2 linked regions of the Homo sapiens genome follow. The protein of the gene in region 2 interacts with the protein of the main gene of each other region in a pairwise test. Each region holds a gene or a part of one and is shown on either strand. Other genes may lie near its edges.

The links. The genes of interacting proteins can lie anywhere in the genome.
Region 1: the proteins of JRK (region 2) and ZNF629 interact in binary tests that used the Homo sapiens proteins (3 or more experiments, as listed by UniProt).

What each region holds. Positions count from the first base shown.
Region 1 is NC_000016.10:30,784,204-30,792,068, reverse strand, and holds the start of ZNF629 (zinc finger protein 629), read left to right. Parts: upstream 1-4,863; 5' UTR 4,864-5,041; intron 5,042-7,553; 5' UTR 7,554-7,586; coding exon 7,587-7,659; intron 7,660-7,795; coding exon of another isoform or gene 7,796-7,814; coding exon 7,815-7,865. UniProt on the Homo sapiens protein: May be involved in transcriptional regulation.
Region 2 is NC_000008.11:142,659,966-142,666,983, forward strand, and holds part of JRK (jerky protein homolog), read right to left. Parts: intron 6,556-7,018; 5' UTR 6,094-6,555; coding exon 4,387-6,093; 3' UTR 1-4,386. UniProt on the Homo sapiens protein: May bind DNA.

The DNA of each region.
Region 1 (7,865 bases), on a different chromosome or scaffold from region 2:
ATGGGGGTGCCCTGCCCTTCCCAGCTCCTCTCTCCAACTCTGAGGGAGAAGACGGAGGGACTGAGAGGCTCACCCTTGGGTCCCAGACACGCTTGGGCCCATCTGAGCAGGAGAGACGTGTTTAGGATCCACGGTGGCTCTGAAGTCACCGTGCGTGGATTTAAATCCACTCCTGCCACTGGTGACCTGTGTGCAAGTGACTTACCCTTTCTGTCCCAGGATGATAATAATAATGGTGCCATGAGTTGTGGAGGTTTAAGGAGTCATTACATGCAAACACAGTGCCTAGTGCATAAGTGCTCAATAAATGTAACTATGTCAGCAGGCACCATCCTCATGTGTTACTCTGGAGCTGGGCGTGGTGGCTTATGCCCATCATCTCAGCACTTTGCGGGGTGAAGATGGGAGGACTGCTTGAATCCAGGAGTTTGAGACCAGCCTGGGCAATATAGTGAGATCCTATTTCTATAAAAATATTTAAAAAATTATTCAGGAAGAAGTTTTGTGAGGAACAAAAAAATTTTAAATTAAGTTAGCCAGGCATGGTGGCACGCACCTGTAGCTTCAGCTACTTGAGAGGCTAAGGTGGGAGGATTGCTTGAGCGTAGAAATTCAAGGCTGCTGTGAGCTATGATCGTGCCACTGCACTCCAGCCTGGGTGACAGCAAGACACTGTCTCTAAAAATAAAAAATTACTCTGAACCTTGGAGACACAGACTAAGGGGTCCAGAATCTATACCTACAGTTAAACGGGAGTTGGAACATCAGCAGTGAAGGACCATTCATATAATGAAGCCACCTTGGCCTCAGGGTTGGGGACACAGAGGAATGACAGGGATGGTGACCAGCTGGCAGGTCAGTGCCCTGTAAAGACGCAAGCTGCCCAGCAACAGCCAGTTACTGACATGTGAAAATGTGGATCACGTTGCCACATCTTTGGATTTTCCAAAGAAGCAGGAAATTCAGGCCAGGCGCGGTGGCTCAGGCCTGTAATCCCAGCACTTTGGGAGGCTGAGGTGGGCAGATCACAGCGTCAGGAGATTGAGACCATCCTGGCTAACACAGTGAAACCCTGTCTCTACTAAAAATACAAAAAAATTAGCTGGTTGTGGTGGTAGGCGCCTGCAGTCCCAGGTACTCAGAAGACTGAGGCAGGAGAATGGTGTGAACCCGGGAGGCAGAGCTTGCAGTGAGCCAAGATTGCACCACTGCACTCTAGCCTGGGTGACAGTGCGAGACTCTGTCTCAATCAATCAATCAATCAATAAAGAAGCAAGAAATTCAATTTTTAATTTTTTTTTCTTTTTGAGATAGAGTCTTACTATGTCACCCAGGGTGGAGTGCAGTGGCATGATCTCAGCTGACTGCAACCTCTACCAACTGGGTTCAAGCAATTCTCATGCCTCAGCCTCCAGAGTAGCTAGGACTACAGGTGCATGCCACTATGTCCAGTCTCACTCTGTCACCCAGGCTGGAGTGCAGTAGTGCGATCTCTGCTCACTGCAACCTCCACCTCCCGGGTTCAAGCAATTCTCCTGCCTCAGCCTCCTGAGTAGCTGGGATTACAGGTGTGCGCCACTATGCCCAACTAATTTTTGTATTTTTAGTAGAGACGGGGTTTCACCATGTTGGTCAGACTGGTCTCGAACTCCTGACCTCGTGATCCGCCTGCCTCAGCAACCCAAAGTGCTGGGATTACAGGCGTGAGCCACTGCGCCCAGCCAGCCCCAGCTAATTTTTGTATTTTTAGTAGAGATGGGGTTTCACCATGTTGGCCAGGCTGGTCTTGAACTCCTGACTTCAGGTAATCCTCCCGCCTCAGCCTCCCAAAGTGCTGGGATTACAGGCATGAGCCACCATGCCAGGCAATTTTTAATGTGTGTTTTTTGTTGTTGTTGTTGTTGTTTGTTTTTTGAGACAGAGTCTTGCTCTGTCGCCCAGGCTGGAGTGCAGTGGCACGATCTCGGCTCACTGCAAGCTCCGTCTCCCAGGTTCACGCCATTCTCCTGCCTCAGCCTCCCAAGTAGCTGGGACTACAGGCGCCTGCCACCATGCCCGGCTAATTTTTTGTATTTTTAGTAGAGACTGGATTTCACCGTGTTAGCCAGGATGGTCTTGATCTCCTGACCTCATGATCCGCCTGCCTCGGCCTCCCAAAGTTCTGGGATTACAGGCGTGAGTCACTGCGCCCGGCCTAATTTTTTTTAAAATTATTATTATTATTATTTTGAGACTGAGTCTTGCTCTTGTTGCCCAGGCTGGAGTGCAGTGGCGCCATCTCGACTCACTGCAACCTCCACCTCCTGGGTTTTAAGTGATTCTCCTGCCTCAGCCTCCTGAGTAACAGGGATTACAGGTGCACGCCACCATGCCCAGCTAATTTTTTGTATTTTTAGTAGAGACAGAGTTTCACCATGTTGGCCAGGCTGGTCTTGAACTCCTGCCCACAAGTGATCTGCCCACCTCAGCCTCCCAAAGTGCTGGGATTACAGGTGTGAGCCACCTCGCCAAACCATCTTTTTTTTTTTTTTTTTTGAGATGAGAGTCTCGCTCTGTCACCCAGGCTGGAGTGCAGTGGCATGATCTCGGCTCACTGCAACCTCCACCTCCCAGGTTCAAGAGATTCACCTGCCTTAGCCTCCCAAGTGGCTGGGACTACAGGTATGTGCCACCACTCCCGGCTAATTTTTTGTATTTTTAGTAGAGACAGGGTTTCACCATGTTAGCCAGGATGATCTCAATCTCCTGACCTCATGATCTGCCCGCCCTGGCCTCCCAAAGTGCTGGGATTACAGGCATAAGCCACCGTGCCCTGCCCGGACTTTTTTTTTTTTTTTTGAGACAGGGTCTCACTCTGCCACCCAGGCTGGAGTGCAGTGGTGCAATCATGGCTCACTACAGCCTCCACCTCCCAGAATTAAGTGATTCTCCTGCCTCAGCCCAAGTAGCTGTGACCATAGCGATGCACCACCACGCCAGGGTAATTGTTTGTTTTTGTTGTTGTTGTTGTCTTTCTTTTTTTTTGAGACCGAGTTTTGGTCTTGTTGCCCAGGCTGGAGTGCAATGGCACGATCTCAGCTCACTGCAATCTCCGCCTCCTAGGTTCAAGCGCTTCTCCTGCCTCAGCGTCCCAAGCAGCTGGGATTACAGGTATGCACCACCACGCTGGGCTAATTTTTGTATTTTAGTAGAGATGGGGCTTCTCCATGTTGGTCAGGCTGGTCTTGAACTCCTGACCTCAGGTGATCCACCCACCTTGGCCTCCCAAAGTGCTGGGATTACAGGCATGAGCCACCGCGCCCTGCCCAGCTAATTGTTTTTAAGTTTTTTGTAGAGACAGGGTTTCACTATGTTGCCCAGCCTTCAAACTCCTGGGCTCAAGTTACCCTTCTGCCTCAGCCTCCCAAAGTGCTGGGATTACAGGCATGAGCCACCAGGCCTGGCCTTTAGCAATTTTTTCTCTTTCCTGTTTTCTCTTTTCCTTCCTTCCTTCCTTCCTTTTCTCTCTTTCTCTCCCTCCCTCCCTCCTTCTTTTTTTTTTTTTTTTTGCGACAGGATCTCACTCTGTCGTCCAGGCTGCAGTGCAGTGGCTCAATCTTGGCTTATTGCAACCTCTGCCTCCCGGGCTCAAGCGATCTGCCTGCCTCGGCCTCACAAAGTGCTGGGATTATAGGCATGAGCCACTGCGCCTGGCTAATTTTTGTATTTTTAGTAGAGACATGGTTTCACCATGTTGTCCAGGCTGGTCTCAAACTCCTGACCTCAAGTGATCCGCCTGCCTTGGTCTCCCAAAGGGTTGGGATTACAGGCGTGAGCCACCGCACCCAGCTGCCTTTAGTAATTTCTGACCTTTGGTTTATTCTTCCCCCCAGCCTCTCAGTCTCTGGACAGAGCCCTCTGCACGCTCCCAGGATTCCTCTGTGTTTGTAACACATACACAATACCAAACTTCCCAAGGGTAGAAAGCCCAATTTCCATGCATCTCAGAGGTATGCCCACCCCAGTGTTAACCACAGTGCCCAGGAATAATAATGCAGTGTGTTGAACTGAAAGAATCAGGTGGCCTTAAGTACACCAGTCGCTTCTCACACCTTGGTTTCCTCCCCGGTGAAATGGGGATGATGGGCAACCTTATCCCATGGGACTGTGATAAGGAAGACAAGAAAGAAAGGCTGTAAAAATTGCGAGCATAGATAACTTGGACGTTGAGAGGCCACCAGTGTTCCTGGGTTTTTAAAGGTTTCTTCTGCTGTGAGCCGGGTGCCCTCTGAGCTATGAGAAAAGAGGTTCTCCCTCCTTGGCCAGGGAACCCCCACTGGCTTCTTTCCTGCCACCGTGAGCCTCAGTTTCCTCCTCTGAGGGGAGGTGTTTGGAGAAGAGGGGCTGGAACACAGGCTATTGCAAATCCTTCCCGGCTGTGCTTGTTCCTGCAGTCCCAACTCCTGCAGCCATGACTTCCATCAAGCATTAAGGCCATGTTTAGTGCGTAGGGTGTTCCCTCTCAGGTCTGCTCTGCCAGCCCCTGCTCCCACCCCAGCCCCATCCCAGGGTTAGTCCAAACAAAGACTGGCCTCAGGGGATCAGCAGCCGCCAAATCTGAGATAGGGCTTTCCGGGCGCGGCCGGCGGAGCCCCTGCGAAATGAAGAGCGGCCAGAAGCCCAGGGACCCTCGCGGGCATCGGGGCTCTCCCAGATGCCCACGCTGCCTGCTCCCACTGGAGACGGGGACAGGGGCGTCGTCCCAGCCTCCTCCCTGCTCCCACCGCTGTCCCCTTTTTTCCCCAGGCTGCGGGAGGCAAAGGGTTAAATCCCATAGAGCTGATGCTCTGACTCCAGGCTAGAGGGGCCCGGGAAGCTGGGGTCACTTCCTGCTCCGTCCCAGTCACCCTGAACTGGTCCCCGGGTCCTCAGCCTGGAATCACCCCTTGAGAAGGACCCCAGAGTCCTCGGCGCCCAGTCCGTCCCCCGAGGCAGGGCACTGAAGGGGTTAAGTCCCCTGGGGCTGGATTCCGCCTTCCGGCTTTTCCCAGACCCCAGAGCCGTGAGTTGGGGACGCCTGGGTTCCCGGGGGGTGGCCTGGAGTGCCCGGGACGGCCGCCGGGGAACAATGGGGCCCGGGAGGCGGGGGCCGGGAGCCCGGGCCTGAGCCCCCCACCCGCGCCCGGGGCTGTGGCCGGGGTGGGGGCGGGCGGGGGGCGCGGAGGGCCGAGGATTCTGGGAAGCGCGGGGGTCGGTGGCGGGGGAGGGGAGCCTGGGGATTCTGGGAAGAGGGATCGGCCGGGGCCGGGGACCAGCGCTGCCAGCGCAGCCCTGGAGGAGCCTGGCAGTGCTGGAAGGAGCCGGGACCCCGGGGGCCGGGGCAGGGGCGGATGCCCAGGCTCTGTATCAGCAGCGGGACGGGGGTCGCGGCTCCGGGGGAGCAGAAGTCCGGAGCCAAGCGGTGGGGGGGCCGGGCCGGGCGGCCGCATTCCCGCCGCCTCCATGTCAGGGTCACCCTGGGCCGTTCCCCACATCTCTCGGGAGGCGGCTCCTCATTCCCTCCCTCTGCAGTGGGGCCATCGCGAGGTCTCAGGCTGGCGTGCCTGGCGCCTGGGCTCCCAGCGCCTCGGCCTCCCTCGGTCTTCCCACGTCCATGCTCTGTGTCGGCCCTGTCATTAACCCTTTCCCTCCTACTCTGGACCACTAGGGGAGAATTTTTTGGAGACCATCGAGGTCCACAAACTCTTACCTGTCCCGAGCAAACACAGCAGGGCATCCTTCCCGGACCGGACATCAGGCAGCCCCCAGTGTGGCAGAGGTCTCCGCTTCCACCACCCCAAAGACACTTACAGGCGGGGAGGGGGGATTCTCGGAGCTTAAGTAGCTGCAGAGATGAAGAAATTAATTTACTTCCTAAACGCTAACTTCTGTCTCTCCTACCGCTCTTTGGCAGGGTGCAGCCAGTCTTGCTTCACCTTGGTCACCTCTCAGCGCCTCCTGCCATGTCTCCCTTGCCCCACTGCCCCTGTGCACACAGCGCCCACCTCACACAGCCATCCAAAGTTTCCAGGCCCCACCCAGGGATTCTCTGCAGGGTGTAAATGGTGTGGGACCTCCTTCAAGCGCTTTGTTCCTGTGGCCCCATTCCCTCATCCTGAACTCATCTCACCATTTTTGGAGTGACAGCTGGCTGTTTTTATTTATTTATTTATTTATTTATTTATTTATTTTACCAGGGGGCCACTTGGAACTCCTGCTCCTTTGCTGCCATCCCCTTGCAAACTGATCTTTAAAGGCATTAGACCAAACAGGTGTTCCAGGGGCTAGGGACATCTCACTCATTCATTCATTCAACAAAGTTTCTGGAGCACCTATTCAGTGCCAGGCTAGGCTTGGGAAACAGCCTCAAGAAAGCAGGACAAAAGGAGTAGAAGGAGGGTCCGGGCAGGAGTGGGGATAGGAGGGCTTTGGTGGGGAGTATGGTTCCAGCTCATGGGTGCAGACCAGCAGGCCTAGTCCCTGGGTCCAACTCCTCCTTTTCTAGCCTGGGAAACCTCTGGGTCCCAGGAATTTCTCCAGCCTATTCTCACTGCCAGCAGGCTCCCCATGAGCTGTCCTCATCACCTGTCTCCTGCCAGCCTCCCATGAGCATGAGTCTCACATGACTCCCAAGGTCACCTCGTGCTCTCAGAGACAGGGGTGAGCCAGATATGGAGCCCTGCTTTTATCATCTTAGCTCTGCCACTTCCCAGCCTTGACCTTGGAGAGGTTTCCCCAGGCATTGATGTACTAATCTGTAAAATGGACAGCCTGATTCCTGGGTCTCCTCACCAGGCTGTGGGAGGACTGGGTGAGAGAAATGACACCATGGCAGGCACTGGGTCTGCCGCAGGTGTTCACACAAGCATCCATCCTCCCCTTCTCCTTACTTTTTCTCTTCCTCTGGGCGGTTCCTGCAGATGCAGCTTTAAACTGCCCCTCTCCCCACCTCCAGCCTGACCCTCTTTCTGTGCTTGGATAACAGGGAAGTGCCCCAGTCCTTTTAGAGGGCCTCTGTCTCCTCTGGGAAACTGGGGTGTTTTTTTTTCTTAACCCTTTAAGTGTCTCAGGCAGCCTCGGTTCACTCTGGGGCACAGAAAAGTTTATTGGTCTCAATTAGCAGCCCCATTAAGAGGAAAATTAGAGTCTTAATGAGCTTCCTCTGATTAGCAAATAACAGGTTTCCCAGCCTCTGGGCATCAGAGGTATGGGGTGAAAAACTCCTTCCCCTGTGGATGTCAGAGACCGCTCCAGCCCCCATCCTGGGTTCAAAGGCTTATGAGTGATGAGTTTTTAATTACGCTCTTAAATTCACCTGCTTGCTTAGCTGTGCGCTTAAGATCTGGAGTGAGAATCAGGCCTGCAGGGGAAGGGGGCCACAGCAAGAACCCGTGCCCAGAAAAATGGGGTGGGAGGACACTGAAGTTCACACAAGGAGGAATGGGGCGGGGCAGGGTGGGAGTGAGGTTCAGGGGGAATAAAGCAAAGTGCAAAATCAGCTCCCAGTGTGCGCTCATCGCTGTCTTCCCCCGCAGGGTCCCTGGAACACTGCAGTCCTGAGCTCTGGGATGGAGCCCGAGACTGCGCTGTGGGGCCCGGATCTGCAGGGTCCGGAACAGAGCCCCAACGATGCTCACAGAGGTGAGGGGCACAAGAAGGGGCTGCGGTCCCGGCAAGACGGTGGTCCCGGCTCAGGGAGGGGCCTGGACTCTGGGGGACACCCGGGGGAGGGAAGAGAGACCAAACCCCGTGTTCTGAAAGGGGCTGGGGGCTGTAGACTCCCTTTCTTTCTGTAGGTGCCGAGAGTGAAAACGAAGAGGAGAGCCCTCGGCAGGAAAGTTCTGGGG
Region 2 (7,018 bases):
AGCAGAGGCCAGAGCTGACACCACATGGGCAAAGGAGTGGGCGTGTGGGGCTGGGAGCTGGGGCTCATGTGGGAGGCTGGTGGCTGCCATGGCTGCAGCTCCTGGCCCTGCGGACAGCCAGGCCTGGGGTCTACAAGAGCTGGGCAGGGAAGAGGACAAACAAGGTCTCACAGGTCCATTCTCCCCAGCCTCCCAGTAGGCAGCTGAGTCCAACGCAGTGCCCGAGAGCTCAGCCCTTGTCAAGGAGAGTCCTCGAACCCAGAGGGGGCTGGGTAAGCAGCAGAAGTGCAGAAGCCCTGCCCAGGCCCTGCCTCCCAGGCCACCACCCACCCCTCACGGCTGCCACACCCACCAGCCCATGACTGTCCACATCCTGACCCCTACCTACCTCATGACCTCCCCGACCCTGATCTCCACACCTGACCCCAAAGCACATTTTGTTATTTTTTGTTTTTAGAGATTAGGTCTCTCACTCTGTCACCCAGGCTGGAGTGCAGAGGCCATAACTCACTGCAGCCTCAAACTCCTGGGCTTGGGGATCCTCCCGCCTCGGCCTCCTGAGTAGCTGGGGTTACAGGCACATGCCACCACACCTGGCTCATTTTCTTTTACTTTCTGTAGAGATGGGGTCTCCCTATGTTGCCCAGGCTGGTTTCAAACTCCTGAACTAAAGTGATCCTCCTGCCGTGGCCTTCCAGAGTACTGGGATTTCAGGCAGAAGCCACCACACCCGGATCCCCAATAAGCACATTTATGTGGGGCGTGAGGTGAGGTCCCTGAGGTGCAGTGTGGACGGGTCTTGATTTGTCCCAAGTTGTCGCTGCCCTGTGCCACAGCCTCCCAAGAATGGATGCAGTCTACACCTTCTGCAAACCCCTGCCTCAAACCGTGTCCCTCCACAAGCACATCCAGCCACTGGGACCCTGAACCTCCTCCAAATGGACTTTAACTGGGGACAACTGATGACAGTCCTCCAACCCCAGCGAGCTGGGGAAGCCGTGGGCAGGGGCTGCGACTTCCTTTCTTCCAATCAACTCCACCACTAGCAATCAATCACTTGGCCCACTGGATAAGAACAGTGGCCTGCGACGTCAGGGGCAGTCCAGGTGCTCTCCATCGCATGCTCAGCCATGGCTGAGCACGAATGAAGCATATGGAAGTCACGCACAGACAGGCCCAGGGCAAGGTCTGCTCTAGACCCTCCTATGCAGGAGACAGACAACTTCCAGGACAGCGTGCCTGGGGTGCTCGCAGAAGGCCAGGCTGGCACAGGCAGGACAGGTGTTCTGTAAACCAACCCCAACGTAGAAGGGGCTGAAAGACCACCTACCCATCCTAACCCCTGAATTCACCATGCCACCCTGAAAGTATGGCCTCTCCTGGGCATCCCGAGGGATGGGAGCTCCCAGAGTGGAGGCTGCCTGTCCCGAGTGAGGACACAGGAGCGCCCTCAGGCCTGAGCACTCAGGGGTGCCACCCCAAAGATGAAGGCAGTGGTGGAAAGAGGTTCTATTAGCAGGCTGGAAGCAGCCACAGAGGTCCCAAACCATATGACGCAGCACCTGCTACCCCACGAGCCACTGGAAAACTGAGGCTGCAACTTGCAGGGGCACTGTGAGAAGACAGGGAGTGGCTCCAGCCTGGTGCTCACAGATAAAACGCGGAGGCATTTAAACAGGACCAGAGACTTTCTCGCTCTGCTCTGGCAAGCTCCAGGGCTTCCCAGGGGCCTCAGCAGCCCCAGAAACAGAGTGAAGAGACACAGCCTCACAGAGCTGTGCTGTGGTGTCTGGTACAGCGGGGCTCCACCTGAGAGGGCTTGGGGAAAAAGATTCTGAGGCTAAAACATTCAACCACTTGAGCTTCTGAGACGGGTCAGGAAGTGAAAACAAAGTGCTCGGAGGACACGGCAGTCTCCATAAAGCGTTCTGGGGGACAGGACCGAGGCAAGAGGTATGCACCAGGCAGCTGGGCCCAGCAGCTCAGAGATGAGTACGCTCTGGGCTCCCTAAAAACCTCACTCCAGCAGCGAGCCCAGGTGAGGAGGGGCTGCAGGAGGAGCAGGGCCCGAGTCCCCTGGGTGGCACAAGGGATTCCAGCCACAAGGGCTGCACCTAGAGTCAGGCTCCAGGCCTTGCTGCAGTTGGTCTGGAAGAGGGGCACCCTGAGGACACAGCCACTCACTGGGGACAAGCGCCTACCCATCAGCCCAGCACAGTCAGCACAAGAGCAGATCAAGAACGGGAAGAGCTCAGGTCCTGAAGAGCTACAGTCTGACAGGGACAAGCCATGTCCAGAGGACTCAGGAGAGCCAGCCAGGAGCTCGGCCAGCTGGCCTGCCCATGCCCTCCCCAGCTCCACCCACCCAGGATGTCCTACTGTTTCAGAGCCCTCGGGACATGTTCTAACCTCCTGTGTTGCCTCAAGCAGCTGCAATCCAGCAGTCTTGGTTAAGAGGCTCTATTAGGAGTGACACGTGAGCCCAGAAATGGCACAAAGTACATGATGTGCAGAAGTTCCCCAGACAATGAAGCAAACAGTGCGGGTGACACCACAAAGACAATGGGACACAAATGGGAACTGGGACTGTCGTTCAGCACCGAGATCTTTAAAAACTATTTGGCTTTTATAATCTTCACACATGCATTCAAAGCAAGAAACACACACTTCCAGGACATAGATAGGGCTCTGTCAGCAATGACTTTTGCCCCTGTATCTACAGAGATGTGAAAGTACGAGAAACCACAGCGAGCCAAATCCTCTCCTTCATGAGAACAGAGGTTTCAGTGGAATCAACAGCAGACGCTGGAATGCAAACTACGTGCTGACTCGGCCAAATGATATGAATTTAAGAGAGGAAAAGAATTCAAGGGCAAAGCACTGAAAATAACATAGCAAGAAAAACCTATTTAGGCCGAGTGCTGTGGCTCACACCTGTAATCCCAGCACTTTAGAAGGATGAGGAAGGAGGATCGCTTGAGGCCAAGAGTTCAAGACCAGCCTGGGCAACACAGTGAGACCCTGTCTCTACAAAAAAAATAAAAAGGCGCGGTGGTGCGTGCCTCTAGTCCCAGCTACTCAGGAGGCTGGGGCGGGAGGATCACTCAAGCCAGGGAGGTCGAGGCTGCAGTGAGCTGGGATCACACCACTTCACTCCAGCCTGGTCAACAGAGTGAGACCCTGCCTCAAGAAAAGAAAAGGACAATGCACCTATTTTATGCTCGCTGAAAGACGAGGCTAATCACTGTGGACACAGGGCGTTCTGGAATCTCAGCTGCAGGCAGTGAGTGTTGCCCGTGAAATGGAGATGCCGCAAAGCAACTACAGACATGGAGAAAATAACCACATCCTCTTACAACCGCCTCTGTGAAAACTGACCAGGACAGACAACTCCTCCCCAAAAGTATTACTAACGTGCTAACAGCTGGGGATAAGAGCACACATACTGCTAGAAATCTAAGCAGCCTGTTTTACTGTTTTCAGTGACTTACGTGCAAACCTAAGACTAATCTCTGAATGTCTGATCAAGACGTATTCATGTAAAGGCCATAAGTATGAAATTCTGGGCAACATGGTACATTGGACTCTGAGCCAAAATGCCAAAATACCACACAGGGTCCGTGTCCTCTATCCGGGTGATGAGCAGGGCCTGGTCAGCCACTCCTACTTTCTTCCCAGAAAGGAACTCTACCAAGTCAACTCTCCGTGGGGCCCCCCAACATCTTGGGGCCAGAGCCCATGGGACAGGATCTGCGGGTAACAGAGGATGGTTCCAGAGTCATTCTGCTGAATGAGGCCACAACTGAAGTGAGATGTGCGGCCTGTTCAGCCGCTAGCAGGCCAAGAACTGAGTCCCAGCTCTCGGGCCATCGGACCTCAGGCAACCGTGCTCGGGGTCCACCCAACACGGGGATGGCCGCCAGCCCAGCAGATAGAGCCTTCTGAGACGAAGCCTGTCCAGGGGCGGTGGGCATGGCCTCCTGTCGGCCTGGAGGGCAACTTCTCTCCACGTGGACAGACTGACATCTCCACCCTCTGATACTGCAATGATCAGCCAGCGAACACGAGACCAGATCGGCTCAGCCTGGCCCCCATTCCAGCCAGGGTGCGGCTCTGGCTTGTTCTAGGCTAGGGTGGACCCTTCCAAAACATTTCCTCACTTTCGGATGACACGGCAAGTGATAAAATAAAACCTGTATTGACAGGAACCTCGGGCACAGACCGTCCTGGGCACCCGAGCCACACCCGTGGGCGACCCACTCCTGGAAGGGCTCTTGAGTGTCTGCACATGCCCTCCTGCCTCAGGTGGGGTCGGGGCACAGGACCATGCCACTCCAGGGTGTGGGGAGAAACAGGGCCAGTGGCCAGGGCAGGGCAGAGAAGCCATCAGTTGTCACCTGCTGTGGATGAGCAGGGCAAGGGAGACTGAGCTGTGGCCCCACAGCCACCAGGGCCCTCCTGGAGGGCTTCAACCTTGACCACAGCCCCGAGGGCACCACGCCGCCTCCTCACCTGCTGCTGGCTCCGGAACACGGCACGCAGCGCCCGCAGCTGCCCCACTTCCTGCGCACTGAAGCATGGCTGCCGCTCCGCAAAGCGCAGGACTGCGTCAAAGGCCACGGCCGCCTGCTCCCAGGCCACCTCCTCGCCCTCACCAGGATCTCCTCTGCCGTCCTGGTCAGCTTTCGGAGTCTTTTCTGAACTCCACACAACCTCTGCTGGCGACGTGGCAGCAGGGGGCCGTCCCCCTTCTGCCTCCCTTCCCGCTACCCCCCAGCTGGCGGCCTGGCGCTGGCGAAGCTGGCCCGGGCAGGAGGAGCCTTCCTTCACAAGCTCCAGGATGTGTGCAAAGGACTTGTTGTGGGGCTTCACTGGGAAGCACTCTGCCTCCAACTCCTCCTCAGAGGAGGAGCCTTCGGCAAACGCAACCGACGGCCACAGCTTCCTCCAGGCCCGCCTGAAGACGTGGCTAGGGACTGCGTTCCAGGCACAGGCCACGCTGAATATGGCATCGTTCATGTTGTAGCGGGCGTGGGGGCCCTGCAGGGGGACCGGAGGGTTAATGAAGTTCCTCATGAAATCTCTCCGAATGCCCTGCTCCATGGGCTGCACCAATGAGGCCACGCTGGCAGGCAGGAAGATGGTGAAAACGTTACTGGACACCAGCTCGGCCTCCTGCGGGTGAGCCCGGGAGCTGTCCAGCAAGAGAACGGCTTTGCTGTCTTCCGGCAAACCTATGGTTCTGAAGTGCTCTCTCACCGAGGGCACAAAGATATGATGGAACCAATCGGAAAAAATCTCCTTGTCCACCCAGGCGTTCCCCTGGGCCTTATAGGCGACGGGCAGGTGCTGGATGCCTTTGAAAGCCCTGGGACCGCTGCACTTCCCGATGGCCAAGGGCTTGAGCCTGTGGGAGCCCGTGGCGTTGGCACACATCAGCACGGTCAGCCGGTCCTTGCCCTGCTTGGGGCCAGGCACAGCCCCGCCTTCCGGAGTGGGATTTGGCAGGCACCGCCAGAAAAGGCCGGTCTCATCAGCGTTGTAAACCTGCTCGGCGGACAGCCCGTGCTCAGCAGCCAAGCTCCTGAAAAACGCACAGAACTGCTCCGCGGCCTGGTGGTCGGCTGACTGCTTTTCACTGGATGCATCTAGCTTTTTAATGCCGTGTCTGGCCTTAAAGCGCCAAAGCCACCCTCCGGAGAACACGCAGGGCTCAGTGAGCTGCATCTGCTCGTAGAAGTCCTTGGCCTTCTCGATGAGCATGGGGCCTGACACGGGGACGCCCTCGGAGCGCTTCCCCAGGAACCACTCGTACAGGACGCGGTCCAGGTGCTCCAGCTTGGGCGTGTGCAGCGTGCGCCGCTGCTCCAGCGCCTTGTTGGAGTCGGAGCTGGCGAAGAACCGGAGCAGCTGCGCCTTGTGGGCCCTGATGTCGTAGAGGGTGGACATGCCCACATTGTACTCCTGCATCAGTGCCTTCCGGCTCTCGCCCTTCTCCAGGCGCGTGCAGATGTCAATCTTCTCCTTCAGTGTCAGCACCACCCTCTTCCGCTTCTCCCCTCTGCTCTTCCCGGCAGCCGGCTTGGAGGCCATGGGGAGGGGTGGCTGGTCCTAGCACTTGCAGGACACACGCCTGGCCTGGGCTGCTGCCACTACTTCCCTCTCCTCCTGCTCCCCTTCTGGGGCTCCGTCTCTCCCTCTCCACTCTGCCTGCCTGCTCTGCTGATCCTGAGCACAGGCCCCAGTCCCTCTCGGGTTTCTCACTCCACACGCTGCACCTCCTGCCTCAGGTATCCCTGGTCTTCCAGGCTCCACACACCTAGGCCTTGGCTCCTGGCAGTGCAGTCAGCTGCCAATTCTCTCTGTGGAGGAGGTGACCCTGTCAGACTCCCCTCTGCTGCTCCACACGGCTGGAACTCCGGCCTTCTCTGTGGATACTATGGCAGCGGCTCCCCTCAAACTGACCAGGTTTGGGGTGGTAGAGGTTTTACCGCATAAGCAGCAGGTGCCTCTCCAGGGTCCACAATGGTATCTCCAGGCACAGCACTTCAGGGGCTGGAAAGCAGAGGGAACAGAGAGGAAAGTGATGGGGCGCGCCCAGGACACACATGGCGTCCTCACGACTCTCCTCACCGGGACACTCCAGCTGAAACTCAAGGGCTGTTGAGAGGACCCATGCAAGTGCTGGCATGCACTGTGGGGAGAGGGTGGCCCCGGGAGCAGCCCAGCCTGCCCAGCCCCTGCACGTGCTGCTCAGGTGGACTCTGCCCAACTCCCACCAAGCAAACTGAAGCCATTCGCTAGGGCTGGAAACGAGACGTGGCTCTCATAGGAGCAGCCCGGCCTTTCCTGGGGAAGCGCTCAGGCAGAAGCCATCAGAGGAAGCCAGGAAGTCCGATGCTGGGCGGACCCAAGAACAAACCTCCCACCCGCCCAGCCTAAGCTTCTTGCTGTAACTGCTCGCTGGGCTACCTGAGCTTCTCAAATCCCTTATTCCTCCCTGAGGAGCAGAGGCAGG